Linked DNA regions of Homo sapiens: all the other regions are linked to region 2. The links come from fine-mapping of genetic effects on gene expression. A gene starts in region 2. Each other region holds a variant in brackets. All regions are shown on one strand. Distances are between the middles of the regions.

Region 1 (8,148 bases), 45 kb before region 2:
AAGTAGATTAAATACATGGAAGGAGTTATGTGAAAGCGATGTCATTCAATTCTTTCAGTATAATCTTAATTACATGATAAGAGTCTCAGTGAACTACCATCAAAAATTATGTTTTCATGATCTCTCAGAGAGCAATTTGATTAACTTCCACCTCAATTCTGATGAAAACACACTTAGAAACCAACTAATAGGTCGTTTGTTAATCAGTCATTGAGAGTCATTCACTTGTTAAACTCTGACACCAGTATTTCTAATTGCCCATGTGTTTCAAACCCCCCCACCTTTTTTTTTTTTTTTTTTCTGAGACGGAGTTTTGCTCTTGTTGCCCAGGCTGGAGTGCAATGGCACGATCTCAGCTCACAGCAACCTCTGCCTCCCGGATTCAAGCAATTCTCCTGCCTCAGCCTCCCGAGTAGCTGAGATTACAGGCATGTGCCTCCATGCCCGACTAATTTTGTATTTTTAGTAGAGATGGGGTTTCTCCATGTTGGTCAGGTTGGTCTCAAACTCCCAACCTCAGGTCATTTGCCCACCTCGGCCTCCCAAAGTGCCGGGATTACAGGTGTGAGCCACCGCGCCTGGACTTCAAACCCTTTTAAAAAAAAAAAAAAATTGAAATACAACACAGTAAAACGGGAGACTTCTTACTTCTTTTGGCAGTTAGAAGAATAATTGTAAAAAGAGACATCTGGAGAATAAGGCTCTGCAAGCTTTCTCAGGCCAACTTAAAAAGTTAAAAGAACAGCCAGCACAGTGGCTCACGCCTGTAATCCCAGCACTCTGGGAGGCCCAGGTAGGCAGACTGCTTGAGCTCAGGAGTTTGAGACCAGCCTAAGCAACATGGTGAAATCATGTCTCTACAAAAAATTACAAAAATTAGCCAGGCATGGTGGTGGCGTGCGCCTGTAGTCCCAGCTATTTAAGAAGCTAAGGTGGGAGGATTTCTTGAGCCTGGGAGGTAGAGGCTGCAATAAGCCTTGATTGTGCCACTACACTCCAGCCTGGTGACAGAGGAAGACTCTGTCCCCAAAAAAGAGAAGAAAGAAGAAGAATTTAAGAGAACAAAGGTTTGTGAATCTGCAAACCTGGAAACTGATCTCATTAAATCATCTGTGCTCAAGCCTCTAGATCCAACCACCACCAATTTATACAAAATACAGAAGACTTTTTTTTTTTTTTTTTTTTTGAGACAGAGTCTTCGCTCTGTTGCCCAGGATGGAGTGCAGCAGACAGATCATAGTTTGCTGTAGCCTCAACCTCCTGGTCTCAAGTGATTGCCATGTCTCAGCCTTCCGGGTAGCTGGGACCGCAGGTACCTGTCATCCTGTGCCCAGATAAATTTTTTTTTAACCACATCATGCCCAGCTAATTTTTTTTTTTAATTTTTTGTCAATCTGGGGTCTTGCCATGTTGCCCAGGCTGGCCTCAAACTCCTGGGCTTAAGTGATCCTCTCACCTCAGCCTCCCAATGTGCTGGCATTACAGGCAAGAGCTGCTGCACCAGGCCTAAAAACTTTTTTATTACAAAGTTAATACATGTTCTCCATAGGTGATACAAAATTAAGGATAGTTAAGTCCATGATGGCTCAGGACTGTAATCTAACACTTTTGGAGGCTGAGGTGGGAGGATCACTTGAGCCCAAGAGCTCGAGACCACCCTAGGCAACGTGGTGAGACCCCCATCTCTACAAAAAATTTAAAAAATGTTTTAAATACAGTTTTTACATCTTTGAAGTTTATGCATTACATCCAATCCAAACCAAGAAAACACTAATTTAACAAATGTTCTCAATAATAATAATTCACTATTAATTTTTAAAATTCATTAAATGGTATTTTTAGGAGACCCTTTAAAATGCTATTGATTTTATCATATTCACCAAATGAAGACCTCACAGATATTATTTCACATCTTGTGCCTAACAGCAGTACGCAGAACAGAGTGGCCCTTCTTGGGGAGACTACACAGTAAACCATCATGACATAATTAATCCTTTCTAGATTACTGCAACTCTACTGATTTGCTGAAACAGAATAAAAACATTGAGAAGGCATAATATACATGCACACTTTTTTAAAAGCATTTCTCAATTGCATGTTAATGTCTATCGACATGTACCACCCCTTCTTCTCAAACTGCCACTGAAAATGCAGTAAAAAAGATTTTTTTTTAATTTTTATTTTTATTTTATTTTATTTTTTGAGATGGAGTTTCACTCTTGCCACCCAGGCTGGAGTGCAGTGGCATGATCTCAGCTCACTCCAACCTCTGCCTCCCAGGTTCAAGTGATTCTCCTGCCTCAGCCTCCCGAGTAGCTGAGATTACAGGCGCCTGCCACCATGCCCAGCTAATTTTTTGTATTTTTAGTAGAGACGGGGTTTCGCCATGTTGGGCTGGCTGGTCTGGAACTCCTGACCTCAGGTGATCTGCCTGCCTCAACCTCCCAAAGTGCTGGGATTACAGGTGTGGGCCACCGCACCTGGCCTAGAATGAATTTTTTTTTTTTAAAGGAACCTTTTTTTATTAGGCTTAGAGAGTAAGAAAACAAATAAGAAATTCTCTTATATATATGACAGGTGGTAACTCACAATTCCTCTATATTAACAAATCACCCTAACTTTATTTAACCAATTTCAGAGTCAACTTCCATCTTAAATGGATTTCTAGAAACAGTTCCAGCCTAAAGAGACGGGAAGCTAAAATAAAACCAACAAAGGCTGAGCATGGTGGCTCACACCTATAATCCCAGCACTTTGGGAGGTCGAGGCAGGTGGATAACCTGAGGTCAGGAGTTCAAGACCAGCCTGGCCAACTTGGTAAACCCCATCTTTATTAAAAATAAAAATAAAATAAAATAAAATAATTAGCAGGGGGTGGTGGCAGGCGCCTGTAATCCTAGCTACTCGGGAGGCTAAGGCACGACAATCGCTTGAACCCAGGAGGTGGAGGTTGCAGTGAGCTGAGATCATGCCACTGCACTTCAGTCTGGGTGACAGAGCGACACTCCATCTCAAAAAATAACAAAACGGGCCGGGCGCGGTGGCTCATGCCTGTAATCCCAGCACTTTGGGAGGCCGAGGCGGGTGGATCACGAGGTCAGGAGATCGAGACTATCCTGGCTAATGTGGTGAAACCCTGTCTCTACTAAAAACACACACACAAAAAATTAGTCGGGCATGGTGATGGGCGCCTGTAGTCCCAGCTACTCAGGAGGCTGAGGCAGGAGAATGGTGTGAACCCGGGAGGTGGAGCTTGCAGTAAGCCGAGATCGCACCACTGCACTCTAGCCTGGGTGGCAGAGCGAGACTCCGTCTAAAATAATAATAATAATAATAATAATA[T/ATAT]AAAAATAAAATAAAATCAACAAAAACTAGGAACTTTCCTAAAGTACTCCCACCACAGGGTTTAAAGAGAAACGATATGCTGTGACCCAGAAAAACATCTTAACGCCACAGATGGGGTAAGAGAAGGGCTTTAGGACGTCACCCTTTCAAGGAAATACAGAGTGTGTTTATTCACTCGACAAATGAATGATGAACATCTACCATATGCCAGACACCTACCTAAGTGTTTGAGATATGTCAGTGAGCAATGGGGACTAGGATTCTTGTTCTTGTGGAGCATATGCTTTATAATTAAACACAATAAATAAGTAAAGTATTAATATATTAGAGCATTAGTGCTATAAGGTCAGAGGTTCCGGTATTAAATAGGGTGGTAAGGGTGGGCCTCATTAAGAGTGTAAGAATTGAGACTTTAAAGAGATGAGGAACTTAATCAGACATATGACAGAAACATTCCAAGAAAGGGCATACCCAAAGGCAAGAATGTGCCTGCACTGGATGAAGAACGGTACTGGATCAAGAATGAACAAGGAAGACAGGAATGATAGGTGAGATCAGAGATGTAACAGAGGCAGGCCGGTAGCGGTGGCTCATGCCTGTAACCTCAGCACTTTGGGAGGCCAGGGCGGGAAGATCACCTGAGTTAGGGAGTTCAAGACCAGCCTGACCAACATGGAGAAACCCCATCTCTACTAAAAATACAAAATTAGCTGGGCGTGGTAGCACATGCCTGTAATCCCAGCAACTCGAGAGGCTGAGGCAGAAGAATCACTTGAATGCGGGAGGCGGAGGTTGCAGTGAGCCAAGACTGCGCCACTGCACTTCAGCCTAGGCAACAAGAGGGAAATTCGGTCTTAAAAAAAAAAAAAAAAAAAAACAGAGGCAAGTCACAGAGTCTCATTGAAACAAAGTAAGAACTTTCATTTCTACTCCGGGTGAAATAAGAAACCTCTACATAGTCTAGAAGAGAGGAATGACAAACCGGTTTAGGATTGTAAAAGATCCCTCCAGCTGTTACGTTACTAACAGGATACAAGGAAACAAGAGTAAAATGCAGGAAGACTTATTAGGATGTTATTACAATAACTCACAGAAAATGTTGGTTCAATGGAATTACTGAGATGTGGCCAGACACTACATATATCTTAAAAATAGCAAGGAGATAAAAGAGTAGTCAAGGTTTTTAAGCCTAAGCAACAGCAAGAATGAATTACCAACAATGAGAAAGAAAAGGCTTTAGTGAAGATCTTACAGGGAAAATGATGAGATTGGTTTGGGACATGTTGAGTTTCAGTTGTCCATTAGAAATCTAAATGAAAAGGTTCAGAGGACAGTTGGATATACAAGTGAGGAAACAAAAGAGAGGTTTATCTCACATAAACAATATACAGGCCTGGCACAGTGGCTCATGCCTGTAATCCCAACACTTTGGAAGGTTGAGGTGGGAGGATCACTTGAGCTCAGGAGTTCTAGACCAGCCTGGGCAACATGGCAAAACCCCATCACTATAAAAAATACAAAAATTAACCAGGCATGATGGCATGCCCCTATAGTCCTAGCTATTCAGGATGCTGAGGCAGGAGGATCGCTTGAGCCCAGGAGGTGGAGGTTGCAATGAGCCATGATCACACCACTGCACTTCAGCCTAGGCGACAGACCGAGACCGTGTCTCCATATATATATCACAAAGATGATCCAATATATGTATAGTAGGAATCCCAAAGAAGAAAACCAAGGCAGTAAGACAAAAAAAACAAAAAGCAAATAAAAAAAAAACAGCACTAAGAAAACCTTCATGATATTGAGAAAAACAGAGACAAAAAAAGAAGAGGGGAAGGAAGCTTGAAACTATTAATACATATTGAAAAGACTCACTGAATGCCCAAGGAAAAATGTGTCAGACCAACCAACACCAATAAGATTACAAAGGCCAGGCGCAGTGGCTCACGCCAGTAATCCCAGCACTTTGGGAGGCCAAAGCAGGTGGATCACCTGAGGTCAGGAATTCGAGATCAGCCTAGACAACATGGCAAAACCCTATCTCTACTAAAAATACAAAAATTAGCTGGGCGTGGTAGTACATGCCTGTAGTTCCAGCTACTAGGGAGGCTGAGGCAGGAGAATCCCTTGAACCCGGAAGACAGAGGTTGCAGTGAGCCGAGATCCTGTCACTGCACTCTAGCCTGGGCAACAAAGTGAGACTCTTTCTCAAAAAAAAAAAAAAAAAAAATCCTATGGATATCTAAACAATTACAAAAAAAAAAAAAAAGCTACATTGCTCAAAGAAAAACAGGTCGACATCATCATACTGTAACAGCTATGCTCTGTGCCAGAAGACAGTGGAATGACATATTTCAGATACTGTGGAACAGAATTTTATCATCACCAAGCCAGCTTTTAACTATTAAAGCTGCAGACAAACTTCTCAAACATAGGGGAACACAAGGAATACTGTTCCCATAAGCTCTTCCTGAGGAATTTATTAGAGAAAATGAATTCCAGATGACCCAAATAACTGGAAAGTCCATATCAACATAAAAATGGTAGTGGGCATTAAATATATATTTATCTGTAAAAACCTGAATGAGGGTTCTAAGTGACACTTTATACTACATAATGACTATATGTTCCAACATTGTAGCTAGAGCACAACTATCCATAAACTGAAGTATGAAGAGATAAAAACTGGAAAAAAAACTGGCTGATTACCTGATATCAACTGAAAGAAAAAGATATTACTTTAAATCAAATGCTTGGGAAGAAAAAGAAGTTACTAGGTAATTTCAATAGTATTCAAAGTAAGAAACCAACAGAAAATAACCAAAAAATTGGGGGGGCACTAAGTCTATTACATAAGGATTTTAATATAAAGGCAACATCTAAAACAAAATACAAACTTCATAAATTTTTTTAAATACCCACAACAATTAGTCAGGCATGCTGACACATGCCTGTGGTCCCAGCTACACAGAAGGACCGCTTAAACCCAGGAGGTTGAGGCTGCAGTGAACCATGTCAGCACAACTGCATTCCAGCCTGGGTGACAGTGAGACCCTGCGTTTAAGGGAAAAAAAAAAAAAAAAAAAAAGTAGTATTAAATAAAAGACAAATAAAGATACATTATCATGAACATCCATCCTACACCTAACTGAAAAAAAAAAACTTGAACAAAATAAACCCCAAAAAAACAAAAGGGAGAGATTAATAAAGAATAGGATTGGATCCTGGAACAGAAAAAAACACAAGAGTGGAAATTTGACAATATCTGCTACTTAGTTAACAGTATTATACCAGTGTTAGCCTTAGTTTTGATCACTATAACATGGCTATGCAAGTTATTAAATTGGGGGAATCGGGGTGGAGTACACAGGAAAACTCTACTATTTTTGCAACATTCCCAAAAGTCTAAAATTATTTCAAAATAGTTTTTTTTTAAACTTTGAGAAAAAAAATGTTTTTTACCACAGGAGAATACTAGTAAACCAACTTGTTATTTTAAATACTAGTAAATAGAGTCTAACATATATCACATCTTTCCTATGTAAACTGTACCCACACCAGGTGACCAAATACTTGATTAGAAAAAGCTTTTCTTGGCTGGGCACAGTGGCTCACGCCTGTAATCCCAGCTCCCTGGGAGGACAAGGCAGGTGGATCACCTGAGGTCAGGAATTCGAGACCAGCCTGGCCAACATGGTGAAACCCCGTCTACACTAAAAGCACAAAACTGAGCCAGGCGTGGTGGTGCGCACCAGTAGTCCCAGCTACTCGGGAGGCTGAGGCAGGAGAATCACTTGAACCCAGGAGGTGGAGGTTGCGGTGAGCCGAGATCCCACCATTGCACTCCAGCCTGGGCAACAGAGCAAGACTCTCTCCAAAGGAAAAAAAAAAAAGAAGAAGAAGAAAGAAAGAAAAAGTTTTTCTTTATAGTATCTGCTAATATTAACAACTCAAAGAAAAACAGACGTCATGTGTCTTCTGATAAACCACACTCCCTGGGAAGTAGTCTCACTGTAGTAGCCAGCACCAAGATGACATCCCCAGTGACACCCATCTCTAGGTATTCATGAACTTAAGCAGTCCCCTCCCATACTGTATCAAAGTTGGTCTATGTGACCAAAAGAAAAGTGACAAGCTGTCACTTCTGAGGTCACAAAGGCATTTCAAATTCCCTCCTCCTTTTCTCCTTCTCTCTGATCACTAGCTCTGGCAGTAGCTTTAGGACACTCAGGCAGAAACTGAGACCTCCCACCAATGGTCACTGAGTAAGCCACCTCGGAAGCAAATCCTCCAGCCTTTGTTAAACCTTCAGATGACTGCAACCCATTAAGAGTACTAAAACCACAACTCCCCAGCTAGGCTACTCCCAGAGTCCTAACCTTCAGAAACTGTGGAAGATAATAAATACTAAGGAGTTTGGGAGGTTTATTTTGCTTTGTTTTGAAACAGAGTCTTGCTGTCACCCAGACTGGAGTACAGTGGTGTGTTCTCAGCCAACTGCAACCTCCACGTCCCAGCTCAAGACATCCTCCCTCCTGCCTCAGCCTCCCAAGTAGCTGGGACAACAGGTATGTGCCACCATGCCCGGATAATTTTTGTATTGTTTGTATAGATGGGGTTTCGCCATGTTGCCCAGGCTGGTCTCAAACTCCGGGGCTCAAATGATCCACCCGCCTGGGCTTCCCAAAGCGCTGGGACTATAGGCATGAGCCACCATGCCTGGCCAATTTTTAGAGAGAGGGTCTTGCCTAGGAATTGCCTATTCACAGGTGCAATCACAGCTCACTGCAGCCTCAAACTTCCAGG
Region 2 (8,183 bases):
GTACTCTACCTCCTCTGGCCAAAGTGTGAAATTATATAGTTTTTAAAAAATGCAGGCTGGCGTGATGGCTCACACCTGTAATCCCAGCACTTTGGGAGGCCAAGGCAGGTGGATTACCTGAGGTTGGGAGTTCGAGACCAGCCTGGCCAACATGGTAAACTTTGTCTCTACTAAAAATACAAAAATAGCCGGGCGTGGTGGTGCGCACCTGTAATCCCAGCTACTTGGGAGGCTGACACAGGAGAATTGCTTGAACCCAGGAGGCAGAGGTTGCAGTGAGCCAAGATCGCGCCGCTGCACTCCAGCCTGGGCAACAGAGCAAATTTCCTTCTCAAAAAAAAAAAAAAAGAAAGAAAAGAAAAAAAAAAAACGCCCCTGCCCGCAAAAAAAAAAAAAAAAAAAAAAAAAACCAAAAACCCAAAGCCATTTATTTTAACCATCAATTTGGGATAGGACAATAGCAGAGTTTTTAAATCTTACCCTATTGTCCAAACTAAAATTTATTTTTTAATTTTCTTTTAAAGACTTTTCAATTACAGTACTCCAAGTTAAAATGAATTATTCCAGAATCATACTGCTAATGCACAAGACAGAATTTTTTTTTTTTTTGAAACAGAGTCTCATTCTGTTGCCCAGGCTGGAGTGCAGTGGTGCAATCTCGGCTCACTGCAACCTCCGCCTCCCGGGTTCAAGCCATTCTTCTGCCTCAACCTCCTGAGTAGCTGGAACTACAGGTGCTCGCCACCACGCCCGGCTAATTTTTTGTATTTTTAGTAGTGAAGGGGTTTCACCATCTTTGCCAGGCTGTTCTCAAACTCCTGACCTCGTGATCCACCAGCCTTGGCTTCCCAAAGTGCTGGGATTACAGGCCTGAGCCACTGCAGCCCGGCAGAAAGAACTGAATTCGTTAAAAAAAAAAAAAAAAAAAAAAAAAGACACACTTAGCTTTTATCTTTAATGTAATGTCCCTGCAAGAAAGCTTATTTCAAAAGACCAGTCAAGAAGACATTAGTAAGCAACCATTTTTAAACTACTTTTTATTTGCATATCGCCTAGAAAAAGGGTCTCACGTACAACAGTACTTCACTCCTTACTGAATTCTATTTTATTTGCTCGGGAGGTGCGTGGCACTTTTTAGAAATAATTTTTATACAGAGAAGGAAATGCACAGCATAATCATTTTCAAAATACAGTTAAATTATTTAATATAATCTTTAATAACCTAGCTCTAATATCACTGAATTTCCTTAGCAAATTGTTAGTGTTGGCAAGCTGTTAAAACAACCATTCTAAAATATAAAAATATAAATCTCGCTATTGATGCTTAAGTTGTACATTTTCAAAGCCTTTGTAATTAAATATCTTATGGCAGAAATATTTCCTATAACTGCTCTAGAAATATTACAGCCTCCCGCTTAGTCCACAATCCCCATCTTCTATATGCCAAAAGCTGGTATATGCCTCTTATTTCAAATGCTGATTGGACAATTAAGTCATTTCCATCTATACATAAAATGCCCCTATAATTTAGGATCACAGGCAATTTAGATTTCTGCTCATTGAAATGCAGAACCTGAAGCAACCTCTAGTGACAGGAGCTATAGTGTTCAATATCATTTTACATGTTACAAGCAGAGGATTCATTGTACATACAAACAATGAACCCTGGCAGAGTTCTTTATCCTAAAGCCCCACAGATTGTTATTTAACGGTATTAATAGATAAGGTGACATAAGCAGTAAGTTCTGAAGAGCTTTTTCCAATAGCTATCAACATTTTTTTTAAGAGAGCAAAAACAGTATTCCCACATTTTCTGTTTCTTCTGTTCATTTTATTTCCCTGCTTTTGGTATCCAACAGAAGTGGTTTCAAATGAAAATCTTAAAATAATTATTCCAAAGACCAAGGATATTCTAAAAACCAGTAACAGTCTTTGCCTCTGAGAAGGGGAAACTGTAGGGTTTGGCGTGAAAGAGAGATTCACTTTTCAATGTGTTTGTACCTTTCCAATTGGATATCATTCGGTAGAACCATATTCTAAATGAGCATACATTTAAAATATTTTCAAGAACAAACAATTCACAAACTTACAGGTTTCCATTAACATTTTCGTTTGTGCAGCATTCGCTGAAGACCTAAGATTTTTATTCCTCCAATCACCTTCTCAACAACCTGCTGCAACAAATACTGAAGCTTTTTTGCAGCCAGGGATCAGTTAGGTGGATCCGAGGCCAGGCATTTAAATCAAAGAGATGCAGCAATCTTACTCAATACTACTACCACTCTCACGCATCTCATTCAACTCCATTTAAAACCACTGCAGCAAGACAGCTGGTACTCTCCTTCCTGTTTCTTTACCGTACAGGCTTAATAACAAAAACAGGTTGGTTTTGAAGCCCTGCTCAAATATTGCAAAAAGGAAGTCTTCGCATTCGGGAGGGGGAAAAAAGTTTCGACTTCGAGAGAATCTCATAGCTTCCGTGTCATTCCATTTGGGAATCCCAGATCCTGCCAGTGAGGTAGATGCTCGCTCTCTCGGTTAACTTTTCCACCCTAGATGCCCTCAAACTGCCTAGGAAGCAACTAAGTCTCCCAACGACCCATGGCTAGTTTTGTTAAGGCAGGTACAAGACAAGCAGTTTATTTAAACCATGACGAACTGGGTCGATGTTCATAAAATGAGAGATGGGGAGAGCAAAAAAAAAAAAAAAGTAGTAATAAAGACAGCCAAACTCCTAATTTTATCAACCAACTTCCCACTTGCCATTTCCCAGCCTTCACACCAGAGGTAGTAAAACGCCTTTTTACCGAGAAAACTAAGAAGCTACCCGAGCCCAACATGAAAATTCCGCGGACAATTCGTGTTAAAATATTTTTTAAATGCCCAAGTGAGGAGGAAACACAGCAACCAAATCTCACCCGGCTGGGAGGCTGGGGTGGGGGGGGTCCCCGCGGCTTTTCCCTCCCGTGCGTCCCAGAAGCTGCTAAGGAGCCGGGGCAGCAGGAGGACGACGCGGGGAGCTTTCAAAAGGGCTGGGGGAGGCAAGAGGAAGAAAAAACTTTAGGGACAGAAGGGGAAAGTGGGCCCCTGCAGTCCCCCCGCAAACTCCTCGGGTGACCCCTCCGCGCGGGGACCCCCTCGGATCCCCAAGCGGACTGCCACCCAGCTTCGTCTCAGCTCCTACCGCCGCGGGCCGCCCCCCGGGCTGAGGGGAAGCGGCGCGGCCCCGACACCCCGAAACTACCTCAGCGCGTCCCCCGGCCGGCGCGCCCCTCAGTGCCTTGGCAGATCTGAAGCCGCTGGCTCTCGCAGCCTGGGGAACTCGCCCCTCTTCCCTCCGCCTCGCACTCCACCCCCTCGCCCGCCACCGCCTCCTCCTTTATCTCCACTCACCTCCCGCCGCCATTTTCCTCGCAGCTCAGCTTTAAATCGGAAACTCGCCGCTCAGCCCGCAGCCGCCGCCGGCCGCCACCGACTAAGCCGCAGCCGCTGCCGTCGCTGTGGAGCGGCTGAGACAGCAGCAGCTAAAGTCGCCGCACGGGGGCCACTGGGATATGTAGTCCCGAGGCCACGCCCAGCACTACCGGTCCCAGGGGGCCTTGCGCGGCCGGCCTAGGGTTCCAGCGACCCCCACCCTGGCTTCCGCGGCGGAGGGCGTGGCGACGTGGGCTCGTGCGGCCGCTTTCGCCCAGCATCGACTGGGAGCTCCCTCGGGATCCGGAGAACCGGAATGCAGTCCTAGCCCTGCCCTTAATTTTTTTCATATTTGCCTTCGTCCAGTAATACCTAACATTTGTGGAGCGTTTCTGGTATGCCAAGCACGGATCCTCAAAACAAGCATCCGGTAGGGACCATGATCATCCTCATTTTTCAGATGAGCGAACTGAGGCACAAGGTCGGAAGCCACGAGGCTGTTCCTTAGCTGCTAAAGTCACTGGGTGAAATGTTGTTGGGCAGCAGTATATTCAGGGTATATTTAGTCCCGAAGTATCATCCCACAGCGTATTTATGACTTACAATAAAGAACAGCTTGCTTTACAATGGAAAGATCTGGCAGGCACCCCCTTACCAAGTGATCGAACTTAGCACCACCAATAATGGGTCAGGACTGTTGTTATGTGTCTCCTAATATGATGCAGTGGGGAAAGCATATTGCTACCTCTGTCGTATTCTTGCCACATACACACAAAAAGCTTACTTGAAAAAATAAACGAATTCAGAATGTGGGACATTCTACACAACATCTAGCCTGGAGTCTTTTAAAATATGACAGCATGAAAGAGGTGAAAACCAAAAGCAATAGGTGAGACTTGATTGGATTCAGGATGATTTTTTTATGTAAAAAGAATTTGGGGGGCAATTTCAATGTGGACTGTATGTTAGATAATATTGAGTCAGTATTAGATGTGTTGAGTGTAAATAAAATAGAATAATCTGACCACTTACCACCTCCACGGTCAGCACCATCATTTCCCACCTGGACCACTGCAACAGCCTCCTCAGTGTTCTGCCTGCTTCCACTCTTTCCTCTTAGAGTCTATACTCAACACAGCAGCCAGAGGAATCCTGGTAAGAACCAAGTCAGTCTCTGTCCCTCCTGCAAAATTCTTGCAGTAACCTGCAAAGCCCCATACAGCCCGTCTCTTGCCCTGCCCTTCCCTCTCTAAACTCATCACCTTCTTCTCTTCCACTCACTTCTGTAACTCAGCTACAATGGACTCGGCCTCTCCAACGTGCTTAGCACACTCTGGCCTTAAAGATCGTGCACTTGCTATTTCCTCTGCCTAGAACAGTATTTTCCCAGAAAATTCAAATAACCCATTCCCTAATCTCCCCATGGTCATTGTCCAAATGTCACTTATTCAGTGAGGCTTTCCCTAACTGCTCTATTTTAACTTCCTGCCCACTCTGATCCCAGCTTTCCCTACTCCTATTCCTTTCTTCATTTATTTTCAGAGCATGAATTATCATTAAAATCATGATATATTTCTGTTTACTTATGTTATTTAAAATATCTCATTTTGGCTGGGCGCGGTGACTCACGAATGTAATCCCAGCACTTTGGGAGGCCAAGGCAGGCAGATCACCTGAGGTCGGGAGTTCAAGACCAGCCTGACCAATATGGAGAAACCCCGTCACTACTAAAAATACATAATTAGCTGGGCATGGTAGCACATGCCTGTAATCCGAGCTACTCAGGAGGCTGAGGCAGGAGAATCACTTGAACCTGGGGGCAGAGGTTGCGGTGAGCCGAGATGGCACCATTGCACTCCAACCTGGGCAACAAGAGTGAAACTCCGTCTCAAAAAAAAAAAAAGTAAAAATTAAAAAATTAAATATCTCATTTCTGGGCCGGGCACGGTGGCTCACACCTGTAATCCCAACACTTTGGGAGGCCAAGGTGGGCAGATCACCTGAGGTCAGAAGTTCCAGACCAGCCTGCCCAACATGGCGAAACCCCGTCTCTACTAAAAATACAAAAGATTAGCTGGGCATGGTGGCAGGCGCCTATAATCCTGGCTACTCGGGAGGCTGAGGCAGGAGAATCACTTGAACCCGGGAGGCAGAGGTTGCAGTGAGCCGAGATCGCGCCACTGCACTCCAGCCTGGGCCACAAGAGCGAAACTCTGTCTCAAAAAAATATATATATATATATTTCCACCAGGGCACAGTGGCTCAGGCCTGTAATCCCAACACTTTGGAAGGCCGAGAGATTGCTTGAGCCCAGGAGTTCAAGACCAGCCTTGGCAACAAAGCAGATACCCAGTCTCTACAAAAAATTTTAAAATTAGCTTGGTGTGGTGGCGCCTGCTTGTATTCCCAAGTACTCAGGAGGCTGAGGTGGGAGGATTGCCTGAGTAGGGGAGGTCAAGGCTGCAGTGAGCCATGCTTGCACCACTGCACTCCAGCCTGGGCGACAGAGTGAGACTCCATTTCAAATATATATATATATAAAATAAAAATAATAAAATAAAATACTGCGTTAGATGCTGAGAACCCAGAGATGAAATGCTCACACGTGTATGGCCTTTCACCTCAGCAACTGCACCTGTCTCCTAGCTACTCTCCTTGCTTCTCTCCCTTTCATCCTCTACAGGGCACTCCCAATACAGTAGCCAGAGGGATCCTTGAAAAATCATGTATTAAATCATGTTACTTCCAACCTAGGCCGGGTACGGTGGCTCACGCCTGTAATTCCAGCACTTTGGGAGGGCAAAGCAGGCAGATCACTTGAGGTCAGGGTTTTGAGGCCAGCCTGACCAATATAGTGAAACCCTGTCTCTACTAAAAATACAAAATTAGCTGGGCATGGTGGCACACACCTGTAGTCCTAGCAACTTGGGAGGCTGAAGCAGGAGAATCTCTTGAACCCAGGAGGCAGAGGTTGCAGTAAGCCAAGATCATGCCACTGCACTCCAGCCAGGGCAACAAGAGCGTAACTCCATCTCAAAAACAAAACAAAACAAAACAAAACAAAAAACTTCCAACCTAAACAGCTTCGAATGGCATCCCATTGCATTTGGGATAAAACTCAGACCCTAGTTGGGTGTGGTGGCCCACGCTTCTAGTCCTAGCTACTCAGAAAGCTGAGGTGAGAGGATTGCTTGAGCCCGGAAGTTCGAGGCTGCAGTGAGCCGTAATTGTGCCAGTGCACTCCAACCTGGGTGACAGAGGGAGACCCTGACTCCATTTAAGAAAACAAACTACTCTGACCCTAATTGATTTGGTCTCTGCTCCCCTCCCTGATCTCAGGTGATATATCTCTCCCTATATCTCACCCCATGTCACACTAACATTCCTGAACACACCAAGCATATTCCTGCCTCAGGACCTGTGCACCTGTTGTTCCTTTTGCCTAGAATTTTCTTTCCTCCTGGCTTGCTCTCTATTGCCATTCAAGTCTCTGCTGCAATGTCTCCTTCTCGGATAGAACTTCTAAAGCACTAAACACACACACAGGCACAAACACAGTCATATCACCCTGCTTTGTCTTCACAATGATTCATACCATACACCATCTGAATTTTTTTAGAAATTTTTTTTTTTTAGATGGAGTTTCACTCTTGTTGCCCAGACTGGAGTGCAATGGCGTGATCTCGGCTCACCACAACCTCCGACTCCCGGGTTCAAGTGATTCTCCTGCCTCAGCCTCCTGAGTAGCTGGGATTACAGGCACATGCCACCATGCCCAGCTAATTTTTTGCATTTTTAGTAGGGACGGGGTTTCTCCATGTTGAAATGCAGTGGCACAATCATGGCTCACTGTAACCTCAAACTTCTGGCTCAGCTGAATTTTTTTGAGACAGAGCCTTGCTCTGTTGCCCCGGCTGGGGTGTAGTGGTGTGATCTCAGCTCACTGCAATCTCCGCCTCCTGAGTTCAAGGGCTTCCTCTGCCTCAGCCTCCCGAGTAGCTGGGATTACAGGCACGTGCCACCACACTTGGCTAATTTTTGTATTTTTAGTAGAGATGGGGTGTTACCATGTTGGCCAAGCTGGTCTTGTATTCCTGACCTCAAGTAATCCAACCTCCTTGGCCTCTCAACATGCTGGGATTTACAGGCGTGTGCCACTGCGCCTGGCAAACATTGGCAGAGTTTGATGGAACCTGTAGGTGATCTTGTAGTGAGTGACATGTGGAAACACTGCTCTAGACTCAAAATCTAAGCCAAATGAGTGACACACTCTACAAGATAGTCTGTGTAGGTGCCCACTATCATTCTTTCCTGCTGTTTGCACAGGCCACTCCTACATCGAAAGGTAGGCTTTATTTCCTCTTCCTTGAACTGGAGTTGACTCTGTAACTGTTTGACCAATGGAAATAGTGGAAGTGATGTCATGGGACTTTCAAGTCTAGGCTTTAAGATGATTGGGGTGGCTCATGCCTGTAATCCCAGCACTTTGGGAGGCTGAGGCAGGTGGATCACCTGAGGTCAGGAGTTCGAGACCAGCCTGGCCAACATGGTGAAACCGCGTCTCTACTAAAAGTACAAAAATTAGCCAGGCGCCGTGGCACATGCCTGTAAACCCAGCTACTCTGGAGGCTGAGGAAGGAGAATCGCTTGAACCTGGGAGGCGGAGGTTGCAGTGAGCCAAGATTGTGCCACTGCACTCCAGCCCAGGCGACAGAGTGAGATTCTGTCTCAATAAAATAAAATAAAATAAAATAAAATAAAATAAAGAT
Region 3 (8,183 bases), 90 kb after region 2:
ACAGACGCACACCACCATGCCTGGCTAATTTTTGTATTTTTAGTAGAGACGGGGGTTTCACCATGTTAGCCAGGCTGGTCTCGAACCTGACCTCAGGTGATCCGCCCACCTCAGCCTCCCAAAGTGCTGGGATTACAGGCGTGAGCCACCACGCCCGGCCTTCTTGGGACTTTTCGGTTGTATGAGCCTAATACACTCTAAAGGCTTAGTCCAGTTCGAGTTGGGTTTCTGTCACTTGAAACTGAAAGAGTTCTGACTAACCCAGTCCGAGGCCGGAAAGGGCTTGGTGCAACTTGGAGGAAGTGAAAGAAGGCACAGAGACCAAGGGGAAGAGCGGTACCAGAAAACTGGCTACAGGCCAGGTCACGGAGGAACTTGTAGGCCACGATGAGCATTTTGGTTTTTAACTCAGTGAACTGGGCCTGGTCTGAAGCAGGAAAGTCACATGAAAATGGCTTCTTCAGGGACACGGGACATTGAAACATGTGGTTATTAGCTTATCAGAGCCAACAAACATTCTGGCTCCCAGTGTGTCAGGTTGAAATTCTGCTGCGAGGGGCACCAGCTGCTAGGATTTTTGTGTCCAAACACCTGCAGTGATCTTTCTTTGATTATGAGCTATCAGAAAACGGGCAGAATAATACAAAAGTATTTCGGGGATAATAGCTACAGGAAATTACTGATCCATTCCTGTTTTTTTGTTTTTGTTTTTGTTTTTGTTTTAAGAAAGGACAAAACTGTGTGTGTGTGTATTGATTATTGTGTTGATTGGACTATTACACCAAACTGGTAATTGCGATAGAAGAGTGGGCTTTCTTCTTTGTACACTTCTTTTTTTTTTTTTTTTGAGACAAAGTTTTGCTCTGTCACCCAGGCTGAAGTGCAGTGGTGTGATCTTGGCTCGCTGCAAGCTCCACCTCCCAGGTTCAAGCTATTCTCCTGCCTCAGCCTCCTGAGAAGCTGAGATTGTAAGTGTGTGCCACCATGCGTTGCTAATTTTTGTATTTTTATTAGAGACGGGGTTTCGCCATGTTGGTCAGGCTGGTCTTGAACTCCTGACCTCAGGTGATCCACCCGCCTTGGCCTCCCAAAGTGCTGGGATTACAGATGTGAGCCACTGTATCCGGCTGTCTGTTAAATTTTTTAAAACATATATCTTTTTCCCTTTCCATAATGTAGGTCCTATATTATAGAGCAGAGGTTAACAAACTTTCTCTGTAAAGGGTGCCAGAGAGTAAATATTTTAGGCTTTCTGGGCCATGCAGTCTCTGAATGACTCCATTCAGCTGGGGTACTGCAAAAGCAGCTACAGACATTATGTAAATGAATGAGTTTGCTGTGTTCCTGCAAAACTTTGTTTACAAAACAGGTGCCAGGCCAGGCAAGGTGGTTCATGCCCGTAATCCCAGCACTTTGGGAGGCCGAGGCGGGTGGATCATCTGAGGTCAGGAGTTCAAGACCAGCCTAGGCAACATGGTAAAACCCCGTCTCTACTAAAAATATAAAAATTAGCCGGGCATGGTGGGGCGTGCCTGTAGTCCCAGCTACTCGAGAGGCCGAGACAGGAGAATCACTTGAACCTGGGAGGCAGAGGTTGCAGTGAGCCAAGATCACACCACTGCACTCAAGCCTGGGCAACAGAGGGAGACTCCATCTAAAATAAATAAATAAATAAATAAATAAACAAACAAACAAACAAACAAACAAACAAAAACAAAAACAGGTGCCAGACTGGGTTTGGTTTTCTGTGGGCCTTGGTTTGCTGACCAGTGTTATAGAAAAGACAACATATAAGGATATATAAGGTGGCCGGGCATGGTGGCTCACACCTATAATCCCAGCACTTTGGGAGTCCAAGGTGGTGGATCGCTTGAACTCAGGAGTTCGAGACCAGCTTGGGCAACATGGTGAAACCCTCTCTCTACCAAAAATACAAAAAATTAGCCAGGCATGGTGGTGTATGCCTATGTTACCAACTACTCAGGAGGCTGAGGTGTGAGGTTGAGGTTATAGTGAGGGAGGTAGAGGCCGGGAAGGTAGAGGTTGCAGTGAGCTGAGTTTACACCACTGCACTCCAGCCTGAGTGACAGAGCGAGAACCCTGTCTCAAAACAAACAAGCAAACAAACAAACAAAGGATATATAATTTTATATTATAAGGATATATTTACCAAGATGTTTGTTGCAGTTTTTTGGGTTTGTTTTTTTTTTTTTGGAGACAGGATCTCTGTCTGTCTGTATGATTGATGGAGACCTGGTTTTTCCCATTCAGCAACTATTCGCCCCCCAAATCGTGACAACAGCACCCGATTTCCCTTCCCCACCTTCAGTCCCTGTGGAATGCATGGGGTGCCTCAACTGCCTCTGTTCAACAGGAGACACATGAGCCAGCATTGTGTTTGAGCTGGCTCGAACTAGCTCACTAGAGCTGATGGGACATGACAAGAGTTCTGTAAACCGGTTGACACTACATTGGTAATTGAAATCGGCTATGGTTTCAAGCTAATGGGGGTACTTACATCATAGAAATCAGGAAACACTACAAATCAAAACTTTTATTTTCTCAAAAAGACTATTGTTAGACATTTATCAACACACCACTGCGTTTAGCTCAGATCTGGTCAATCAGAGGGCCACAGCTTCCTGGCCGTAGAGCAGGACTGGGCACAGAACTCAAGCAAGACCATGAAAGTCAGCTCAGGTGTTAGAAAGGATGCTCTGTTCTACTGGGGCTCCTGGACTGGTAGGATTAAGCCCACAGTTGTGAGAAGCCACTAATAGAGGATATAAGGTGTAAGGAACTAAAAGATGGTGAAAGTTCAAGTCCTGTTGACATTATTTGAGGCCCTTGATTCAGCATTGCCTAAAACTAGAATGTCCCCTGTGCTACAAGCCAGTACATGTACTACATTCTCTTTCTAGCATATACTGCTGGTGCCCTATAGCAAATCCCCTTGGCCTGCTTCTGAGATTAGCTACAACTATGATGGACAGGCTGGCAGCTCCCACCTCACACACACATCTGTTTCTCTTCTTCTTCTTCTTCTTTTTTGAGAGAGTCTCACTCTGTCACCCAAGCTAAACTGTAGTGGCGTGATCTCAGCTCACTGCAACTTCCGCCTCCTGGGCTCAGGTGATCCTCCCACACTAGTCTCTTTTTTATTATTTTGAGATGGAGTCTCATTCTGTTGCATAGGCTGGAGGGCAGTGGGGTGATCTCGGCTCACTGACACCTCCACCTCCCAGGTTCAAGTGATTCTCCTAACTCAGCCTCCCAAGTAGCTGAGATTACAGGTGCAAGCCACCACGCCCAGCTAATTTTTGTATTTTTAGTAGAGATGGGGTTTTGCCATGTTGGCCAGCCTGGTCTTGAACTCCTGACCTCAAGTAATCCACTTGCCTCAGCCTCCCAAAGTGCTGGGTTTACAGGCATGAGCCACCGCATCTGACTGTTTTTCTTTTCTCTTGAGGCAAAGTCTTGCTCTGTTGCCCAGGCTGCTGGCAGTGGCATGATCACAGCTCACTGCAGCCTCAACCTCCTAGACTCGAGCAATTTTCTCACTTCAGCCTCCTGAGTTGCTGGGACCACAGGTGCACGCACCACCCCCTGGCTTTTATTTTTTTATTTTTTTTATTTTTTGGCAGAGACAGTGTCGCCTTATGTTGCCCAGGCTGAACACCTGTGTCTCTTAACCTAAGAGCTGTCTCCAGCACAGGATGCAAGACAGCCCCAAAAAAGTGTTAGGGACTTAAAGCCACCAGAAGCTTTTCTTAACCAATGGAATACAGGAGTCAATGGGTAAGTACCCCAGCTTCTCAGTTCCCTGGAGGGACAATTGTGATTTGGGGTTTTTTGG[G/T]TTTTTTTCCTACCTACATCAAAAAAGGAATGCAGAAAATATGTCCACCATATATTCTACAGCTCAGGGAATTTTTTTTTAAGACTGGATGAGGGCCAGGCGCGGTGGCTCACGCCTGTAATCCCAGCACTTTGGGAGGCCGAGGCGGGCGGATCACAAGGTCAGGAGATCAAGACCATCCTGGCTAACACGGTGAAACCCCGTCTCTACTAAAAAAAAATACAAAAAATTAGCCGGGTGTGGTGGTGGGTGCCTGTAGTCCTAGCTACTCGGGAGGTTGAGGCAAGAGAATGGCATGAACCCGGGAGGCAGAGCTTGCAGTGAGCTGAGATCACGCCACTGCACTCCAGCCTGGGCGACAGAGTGAGACTCCATCTCAAAAAAAAAAAAAAAAAAAAAAGACTGGATGAGGCTCTCTAACCCAGATGCATACCAGGTTTTGAGGCTCAGAGCTTAGTGAAACTAAGCCTTGTGTCCCACAAAATTCTGATGCTCATGCAAGAAATATCCAACTGGGGAGGATACTCTGTCCGTGGACTGATTTGCCCAGGCACAAATTCAGGCTGAAAATAGCAAACTAAAGTTAGCCGAGATGTTCTGCCTTGTGGCCTCCTTCAGGAACATCCTGTCCAGAGGAAAGGATATTTAAGGAGAAAGGAAGCAGCACAAGTTCGACTCAGCCAAGAAACAGAGGAAGGACATCCCAAGCACGAAGTGGGGCACCAGTCTGTGTTCCAGCGAGAGGTGGGGGATAAACAACCATGAAACATCTACTGTGTGTGTGTATTCATGTATTTTACAGATATTCTCTTCTCTCACTTTGTCCTTTATGTTTTTAATTTTCCTTAAACTTCTTGTTCTCTCTGTTCACTTACACATTGGTTTTTGTTTGTTTGTTTGTTTGTTTGTTTGTTTGTTTTGGGACGGAGTCTTGCTCTGTCGCCCAGGCTGAAGTGCAGTGGCATGATATCAGCTCACTGCAACCTCTGCCTCCGAGGTTCAAGTGATTCTTCTGCCTCAGCCTCTCAAGTAGCTGGGATTACAGGTGCCTGCCACTACACCTGGCCAATTTTTGTATTTTTAGTAGAGATGGGGTTTCACCATGTTGGCCAGGCTGTTCTCCAACTCCTGACCTCAAGTGATCCGCCCACCTTGGCCTCCCAAAGTGCTGGGATTACAGGCATGAGCCACTGCACCCAGCTTACTGATCTGATCGTGGAAGCACAGTTGGTCAGTGCATTTTGCTACAATGATTTGGGGTTTGTATTTGGAGACTCATTTGCAAGAAATATAGGCACATCCTAAACTAGCCTGAACAAAAAGTTTGGAGGACATCAGGTGAACCTGAACCCAGGGGCTCAACATGGCTGGTTTCCATTTCTCTATCATCTCTCGGTTCTTCTCCAAGTTGGCTTTCCTCTCCTGTAGCTTTGCCTACCTGCTGGTTCTGGGGTTATTTCTCACCAGCACAGCAACACCAATGGAAAGGGAAAATACCCCTGACAATAGTTCCAAGAACAAACTGAGGAGGGCTTCGTTGGCTCAGTCTGAGTTACCATAAGCCAATCACTTAGCCAGGAAGATATAATGTTTTTTGGGGTTTTTTTGGTGGGGAGACGGAGTTTCACTCTTGTTGCCCAGGCTGGAGTGCAGTGGCACAATCCCGGCTCACTGCAGCTTCCACCTCCCGGGTTCAAGTGATTATCCCATCTCAGCCACCAAGTAGCTGGGACTATGCCACCACACCCAGCTACTTTCTTTTTCTTTCTTTCTTTATCTTCTTTTTTTTTTTTGTATTTTTAGTAGAGATGGGGTTTCACCATGTTAGTCAGGCTGGTCTCAAACTCCTGACCTCAAATGATCCACCTGCCTCAGCCTCCCAAAGTGCTGGGATTACAGGCGTTGAGCCACAGCACCCGGCCAAACCATTTGAAAGTATACAATTCAGGCCGGGCACAGTGGCTCACACCTGTAATCCCAGCACTTTGGGAGGCCAAGGTGGGCAGATCACGAGGTCAGGAGACCAGCCTGACCAACATGGTGAAACCCCATCTCTACTAAAAATAACAAAAATTAGCTGGGCATGGTGGTGCATGTCTGTAATTCCAGCTACTCAGTAGGCTGAGGCAGGAGAATCGCTTGAAGGGAGGCGGAGGTTGCAGTGAGCTGAGATCATGAGACTGCACTCTAGCCTGGGTGACAGAGCGAGACTCAGTCTCAAAAATAAATAAATAAAATGAAATAAAGTATACAATTCAGTGGCCTTTTCTTTTTCTCAACAGTGAATTTTATTTATTTATTTATTTAGACAGAGGCGAGGTTTCCCTTTGTTGCCCAGGCTGCTCAAACTCCTGGCCTCAAGTGATCCTTCTGCCTCAGCCTCCCAAAGTGCTGGGATTATAGGCATGAGCCACTGCACCTGGCCTGTCCCAGTAATATTTGTTGAAATACAAAATTGATTTTCTTCAATGAATTACCCTGGTGACTTTGTTGAAGATAATTTGGCCATATATGTGTCAGTCTCAGCTGGGCTTTCTTTTTCTTTCTTTTTTTTTTTTTTTTGAGACGGAGTCTTGATCTGTCTCCCAGGCTGGAGTGCAGTGGCGCATCTCCACTCACTGCAAGCTCCACCTCCCAGGTTCACACCATTCTTCTGCCTCAGCCTCCCAAGTAGATGGGACTACAGGCGCCCGTCACCACGCCCGGCTAATTTTTTGTATTTTTTTAGTAGAGACAGGGTTTCACGGTGTTAGCCAGGATGGTCTCGATCTCCTGACCTTGTGATCCGCCCGCCTCGGCCTCCCAAAGTGCTAGGATTACAGGCGTGAGCCACCGCACCCAGCTAGCTGGACTTTCTATTCTCTTCCACTAACCTATTTGTCTATCCTTCTTTATTTTGTTTTTTTATTTTGAGATGTGGTCTTTCTCTGTTGCCCAGGCTGGAGTGCAGTGGTAGGATTATAGCACACTGCAGCCTTGACCTCTTGTGCTCAAGCAATCCTCCTGCCTCAGCCCCTCACGTAGCTGGGACCACAGGTACATGCCACCACACCCAGCTAATTTTTTGTAGAGATGGCATCTTGTTGTGCTACCCAAGCCGGTCTTGAACTCCTGGGCTCAAGCAATCCTCCCACCTCAGCCTCACAAAGTCCTGGGATTACAGGCATGAGCCATCATGCCCTACAAATCTTTCTGTTACCTTTTCAAATATGTAAATTGTCCATGGATACCCAATCATACAACACAATTGCCCTTGTTCATACAAGTATTTTCTGAGTCTAATTTGTGCCAGTCATTGGGCATACAGTGGTGCTCAGGACCCAGCACCTTCCCTGGCCTCATGGAGCTTGAGGTAGTAAACATCTGCTGGTTTTGCCTGCTCAAAATCCTCCCTGCTTCAAGCAACAACTTCCTCCTCTCCACTGGAAAGCCACTGCCCATCCACTCTCACCCCACGTGTTCAGAGAAGGCTGACCTCAACATTCCCTTCAAAAGGTGGATGCATAGGCCAGGTGCGGTGGCTCATGCCTGTGATCCCAGCACTTTGGGAGGCCGAGGCAGGTGAATCACCAGGTCAGGGGTTCAAGACCAGCCTGGCCAACATAGTGAAACCCTGTCTCTACTAAAAATACAAAAATTAGCCAGGCATGGTGGTGCACACCTGTAATCCCAGCTATTCAGGAGGGTGAGGCAGGAGAATCGCTTGAACCCAGGAGGTGGAGGTTGCAGTGAGCTGAGATCGTGCCATTGCACTCCAGCCTGGGCAACAGAGCGAGACTGTCTCAAAAACCAACAAACAAAAAAAGGTGGATGCATGATCCAGGTTTGGCGACATTTTTCTAGACCTGCCAGTAAGATGTAGTTTTCTATACTCTGGTTTTTGAAGTTGGGGAGCTACAGGGGGCACTATTGCCTGAGATTCTCCTCCTGAGAAGCCAACATGGAGGACATGAGGGTCTCCAGGGGGAGATCAACAAGTACTTACCCTGTGGCCATCATTCTGGCTGTGCCTGAAGCTCACGAGGCTCCTGGGATTTCCAATTCTATGAGTCAATAAATTTTGTTATAATTATAATTCTGTTTATCTTTTTACTTTTTTTTTTTTTTTGAGACTTTTTTTTGTCACCCAGGCTGAAGTGAGTGGTGCAATCTCCGTTCACTGCAACCTCCGCCTCCCGGGTTCAAGGGTTTCTCCCTGCCTCAGCCTCCCGAGTAGCTGGAACTACAGGCGCGTACCACCATGCCTGGCTAATTTTTGTATTTTTAGTAGAGATGGGGTTTCACCATGTTGGCCAGACTAACCTCAGGTGATCCGCCTGCCTCGGCC

Alleles and levels. Alleles are on the strand shown, and positions count from the first base shown. SD is a standard deviation of normalised expression in the study named. Not every link is listed here.
For the expression in Th2 cells of the gene that starts at base 3,526 in region 2, allele ATAT in region 1 goes with a lower level than allele T (large effect, 1.2 SD a copy in Schmiedel 2018).

What was found. PIP is the estimated chance that this variant, and not a neighbour inherited with it, causes the effect.
Region 1: its variant is fine-mapped to the expression of NCOA3 in Th2 cells (Schmiedel 2018, PIP 0.92).
Region 3: its variant is fine-mapped to the expression of NCOA3 in whole blood (INTERVAL, PIP 0.95).

The regions. Positions count from the first base shown.
Region 1 is chr20:47,542,599-47,550,746 of GRCh38, reverse strand. All of the region lies in intron 1 of NCOA3 (nuclear receptor coactivator 3), which reads right to left. Among named protein-coding and RNA genes, the nearest start is that of NCOA3, 45 kb to the right of the region's middle. The variant T/ATAT (reference allele first, on the strand shown) is at 3,343.
Region 2 is chr20:47,497,230-47,505,412 of GRCh38, reverse strand. It overlaps NCOA3 (nuclear receptor coactivator 3), which reads right to left and starts at 3,526. Exons shown (of 23, transcript NM_181659.3): 1 at 3,394-3,526. RefSeq lists a silencer at 3,167-3,286 and a cis regulatory region at 4,538-4,610.
Region 3 is chr20:47,407,685-47,415,867 of GRCh38, reverse strand. LINC01754 (long intergenic non-protein coding RNA 1754) reads left to right here and starts at 3,724. Exons shown (of 3, transcript NR_146496.1): 1 at 3,724-3,798. RefSeq lists a silencer at 40-89 and enhancers at 1,131-1,180, 2,914-3,073, 5,271-5,460. The variant G/T (reference allele first, on the strand shown) is at 3,857.